2 separate regions of the Homo sapiens genome follow, and region 2 is linked to region 1. Evidence: fine-mapped expression QTL. Tissue or cell type: whole blood. Region 1 holds a variant in brackets; the other region holds the start of a gene. All regions are shown on one strand. Distances are from middle to middle.

What was found. PIP is the estimated chance that this variant, and not a neighbour inherited with it, causes the effect.
Region 2: it holds the start of TAGLN, and the variant in region 1 is fine-mapped to the expression of TAGLN in whole blood (TOPMed, PIP above 0.99).

What each region holds. Positions count from the first base shown.
Region 1 is chr11:117,326,108-117,328,863 of GRCh38, reverse strand. CEP164 (centrosomal protein 164) reads right to left here and starts at 1,010. Exons shown (of 33, transcript NM_014956.5): 1 at 960-1,010. RefSeq lists a silencer at 693-942. The variant T/C (reference allele first, on the strand shown) is at 1,705.
Region 2 is chr11:117,198,406-117,200,905 of GRCh38, reverse strand. It overlaps TAGLN (transgelin), which reads right to left and starts at 1,536. Exons shown (of 5, transcript NM_003186.5): 1 at 1,474-1,536. LOC100652768 (a long non-coding RNA gene) reads left to right here. Exons shown (of 8, transcript NR_045215.1): 2 at 994-1,055; 3 at 2,118-2,169; 4 at 2,470-2,500. RefSeq lists an enhancer at 2,316-2,500.

The DNA.
Region 1 (2,756 bases):
CTATCATTTCTAGATGTGTTCATTTCTATGCCTCGTCCAATAGGCAGCCCCACCTACTACACTGCCTAGAAGACAGGGCATGTCCGACAAATGTTTGCTGTATTTATTAGATGAATAAATTAAAGGGACAGACTTGGCTGAGTGAATGGTGAAGCCCTTCATTGAGATAAAAAAATACAAGAGGAGAAACAGATCGGAGGGACCGGGGAAGGCTGACGATGACAGTAAGCAGGTCTGAGCTCAGGAAAGAGGTCTGGCTGGAGTAGTTTGGCGAGTCAACGCTGAAAAGCTGATAACGCAAGAGATGGAGTGCGCCGAGTAGAAGGGAGCTTTCTACTGCCAAGGACTGAGTTAGGAGAACGGACAGGGAGTCGCTGAAGCCAAGTGAGGAGAGCGGTGCCAGAGGTAGAGGGACATTTTTAAATCCAATGCAAGAAAAGGAAAAAACAAAAAAGCTTTCCAACTTTCCCAGCTGGCCAAAGATGGCATAAGATTGGGCTAGCCCCGGATTTGGACCCGGGGGGAAGCCTGCCACAGAAGTATCCCAGCAAGCTTCGGAAGGCCTGGCCTCACTCGCCAACGATGAACAGAGCAAGCAAACCAGGGCCCCGTGCCCAGTGCCCCTCTCCCGCGTCCCGACCCGCTGCTCACTCACCCGCCAGACCCCCAGCCCGGGCCCGGTGGCCCGCTCAGGAGCCGGCGAGATTTCAAACGGAGGAACTGTCGCCTGGCAGTCCGATTTTCACTTCTTCCCTCAGTCCCCGCCCACACTCGAGCGCATCACGCTCGTTGGCTCGAGAGCGTGCCTCGGGTCCCCCGCCACGCTCGCTCCCTTCCCCGCCGCCCAACCCCTCCCTCGATGAGGTCCTCAACTATCCCCCACCCCGGAAGGCTCCGGGCGAGGCTCCGGGCGAGGCTCTGGGCGAGGCGCAGCTCCCCCAACGCCACCCAACACCCACCCGCTCCCCCAGCTTCCAGGGACGCCGGGGTGTTGCCCTGCAGCGCGCAACAAACACTTCCGGAAAAGGTACCGCCTAGCAACCGGGAGTCCCGCCTCCAGCAGGAGCCAATAGGTCGCCGGCTGAGAGCTGTGACAATGGATTGGCTCGAAGTCCCTTCGGTGCACGCAGGAGCTCTGTCCGTTTTCCGTTGCACGATGGGAGTGTAGTTTAAGATAGATAATGGGAATCCGCAAGAGGTTGAAAGAGTGTAGTTTAAGATAGATAATGGGAATCCGCAAGAGGTTGAAAGAGAACCTCATCGGCTGGGCGCGGTGGCTCACGCCTGTAATTCCAGCAATTTGGGAGGCCGAGGCGGGTGGGTCACCTGAGGTCAGGAGTTCGAGACCAGCCTGACCAACATGGTGAAACCCCTTCTCTACTAAAAAAAAAAAAAAAAAAAAAAGAGGACCCCGAGTTTAGACGTGAGGATTTCTGCCAGGACAGAGAAGGACTATTTAGAGTATTTATACTAATGTGAATTATCTAATTATCTAATTGATCATTTGTTAGGAGTATGATTAACATCAGGTGAATAATACAGTGGTCATCAATAATCAACCCATTGTTACTTTAATCAACAAAACAAATGTGAATGTAAGGTAATGGAGACGCGTCCACTCCCCATCTCTCCCCGCAAAAAAACTGGCTCTCCTGTGCTCCTATTAAACCAGTGAGCACCTGACCAGGAGTTAAACCTATTTTC[T/C]ACTATCCATCTTTTCACCAAAGCCCAGGGTTCAGTTTGTATGTCTGCAAGATGGGGATAGTAATGTCTGTCATAACTATTTCAAAGAGTCTATTGAAGAAGAAAAAAAGTGACACAATGTGTAGCTCCTCCACACACCCTGTCGGGCAGAAAGGTTGCTACTAATATAATTCCGAAGAGTTTTAGTTTTGCTTGCACGGAGGGCAAATCTTCCTTTCTCTCATATGTCTCCAACCTCCTAGAGAAGTTAAGAGGGGCAAAGAAAGTTCTGGCCATTACATCAATAGGAAAACTGAGAAACAGACAAATACAGATGCTGCTAGTTGAGGAGGAAAATGATGAGGCCAAGCTCATAGAGCCGCTCCTGATAGGTTCTAGAGATGTAGCTGACTCAGGATAGTCCCAGTGCCACTCAGAGGCTGATTCCAGGATGAGAAACTCAGATTGTTGGAATATACAGAGCATATTCCTTGTGAAAATTATCAAAATCAAAATAGAGTCATTTGTTTTAAAACCCTGACAAATGGAGCCAGGGAAGACCATGAAGAGAGGGTTCTCACGCATGAATACCTGATAACAAAAACTATCGACCGGGCCTGGTGGCTCATATCTGTAATCCTAGCACTTTGCCAGGCACAGTGGCTCACACCTGTAATCCCAGCACTTTGGGAGGCCAAGGCGGGTGGATCACCTAAGGTCAGGAGTTCGAGACCAGCCTGGCCAATATGATGAAACCCCGTCTCTACTAAAAATACAAAAATTAGCTGGGCATGGTGGCACACGCCTGTAGTCCCAGCTGCTCAGGAGGCTGAGGCAGGAGGCTGAGGCACTTAAACCCGGGAGGTGGAGGTTGCAATGAGCCCAGATCAAGCCACTGCACTCCAGTCCAGCCTGGGTGACAGAGCAAGACTCCGTCTAAAAAAATAAATAAAATAAAAATTCCTACTTGAGCCAGGCACAGTGGCTCATGCCTGGAATCCCAGAACTTTGGGAGGCCAAGGCAGGTGGATCACCTGAGGTCAGGAGTTAAAGACCAACCTGATCAACATGGA
Region 2 (2,500 bases), 130 kb after region 1:
ACCCCCACTCCACCTGCCCTCATGTCTGCCTTCCCCTTCTGCACCCCTGCTGGGCTCCTGAGGAACAGGATGGAAGGAGAGTGTGTCCCCTACCCCCAGCTTCCAGTCTCAGGAGGGTCAGAACAGACAATACAGGTCAAAGCAGCAAGGCTAAGGGTGACAGGTACACAACGCTGCAGCCCCCAGATCTAGAGACAAGATTAGGATTTCGGTCAGAGGGGGATGAAGCACACACCATCCCCACTCCCACCCAGCACCACCATCCTTCCCCTTCCTCCTCCTGGGTCAGGGTCGAAAAGTGGAGAATCCCCAGAAATCCTTTAGAGTCCTCTGATGAAGCCTCCCGAGTCCTGCCTTCGAGCCAGTGGGGAGGGGGAGAGGAGGATGATTACAGGGCGGCCCCCCCAGGGGCATCTCAAGACACTCCCAGGACAGCATGGACAGGCATGGACCCTCCTGCCCTGTGGCTCCTGCCAGGACCCCTCCCCTGAGCTGCCCAGTGGGTGAAAGTGGGCAGTGGAGAAAGAAAGTCCAGGGTCAAACGGGAAGGTGGCACCCCCTACCAGCAGAAGCCCAGAAACACGAGCAGAGCCAGGGGCCCCTGCAGGGCTGCTGTGCCCCTTCTCTCTTCCCAAATAGGAGTGAGCACACCTGGACCTCTGAGAGGGCAGGAGGGTGGCTCCTCTCCACTCCACGGACAAACAGGAGTGGCCTGGCTACATAAATGTGTGCCATCCTCACTGCTACCTTTGGAATAGCAACTTCGAAAGGGAACCACCCTTTGGGAAAGACCAAGGGTCCCAGGCCTGCCCCGCCTATCACTCCAAAGCTCCTCCTTGGCAGTACCCGCCCCCCACCCCTCTGCTACAGTGGGGGTGACCTCCCACTGTCAGACAGTGGAAGGGGCTGCTTGTCAGAAGGACAGGCCTTCCGTCTCCACTCTTTGCCCCTGACTGGAATACAAGAGTTCTGTGGCCCTTCACATTGTCACAGGGCTATCGCTGCTGCTCAGGCCCTGGGGACCCGCCAGAGTGGGACACCGTGCTCCAACACAGGTGCGTTCACACACTCCTCACCTCCTTGGAAGTTCTCCTGGAGGGGCAACAGACAGTAGAGCCTTGGCCTAACCGGCCGGCGCCTGCACCCTTACACACACCTTGTGGATGTGGCTGGCTGAGATGGGGAGCCTCCCTCTCACCCCGGTGGTTTCCATCAATTCCTCTGCACTAGCCAAGTCATCCGGGGCATTTCAATGAGCCCGGGGCTGCCCAGTCTGAGAGAGATCCAGGACGCTAGTGATCCAGCCCACCCTGCCTGGAGCTTGGGCCCCCATGCTGACTGAGAGGGTGGGTTTCCCTAGCCAGGGAGCTGGAGCTGGCGCCTGGGACCTCAGGAGAGCCTGCCTGAAATGCACCCACTGCTCCTGTCCAGCTCCAGCCCAACTTCCCTCCAAGCCCCAGCCAATGCACTCACAAGGCTTCCTCAGGGCTCGCAGGAAGGAGTGAAGACTTGTGTCTGGGTTCGGACAGACAGGATGGGGCGCTGGCTGGGTGAGGGGTTTAAAGGGCTGCCGCCGTGGTGATGTCAGCCTCCCCCACTGGCTCGCTCCTCGGCCCCCTCCCTGCTAGAGGAAGCCGGCTCCGCTCCCCACCCCCGGCTCCCCCAGTGACTCCACACAGGCTCCATATTTGGGGAAAGACACCAAGTTGGAGCAGTCTACCGGGGCTGCCGAGACATTCTCTGCATGCTTTGGAGATGGAGCGGGCCGGGGCGGGGCACGCTGCCGGCGGGGAGCCGGCCCGGGAAAAGCCTTTTATGGACAGGACCCTGCCCGGACTTACGGCTGCTCCTACTTCACTGTTCTCTGGCCCCGAGTTTGAGAAGAGGGGGAGTTCAATAGAGTCTGGCTGGAGAGAGGGGCAAGGGGCTGGGGAGCCGGGAATCCCAGGGGTTTGTGGGGACAAACCAGCCACCCTCTCCTCCTGGGGCTTTTAGCTCTGATGGGACATGGGATCCAACCTTTCCTGAGGACCTACTCCACACCAGGCCCTTTGCAGTGCTCTCATTGAATACTCACAGCTACAGTGTGAGGGTGTAATTACATCCCCATTTTATAGATGAGGAAACTGAGGCCCCGAGTGCGTCTTCCTCAAGGCCACATGGTGAATGGTAAGTGGCAGATCCTGCACACCTCTGCCAACCCGCATGGGTGCAGGAGAGGTGGTCAGACCCACCCTTTCAATTGGACCACCCTGCTCAGGTTGAGAAGAGCTTTCAGTGCAGGTAGGTCTTGAGTTATATGCTTTAGTTGGGGCTGGGATTTGAGGGTTCGGCAGAAGCTGAGTCCAACTCCGGTCCCCATCCAGTGGGCAGTGTCAATAAGAGGGTCTATAAGGCCTGGCAGGGCCTGAGACACTAACGCAGGAGAAGGAGGCTCAGGAGGCTGGTATCATCCCTTCCTCCCTTTAGGAACAGTCCCTACCAGCCTGGAAAACAGACC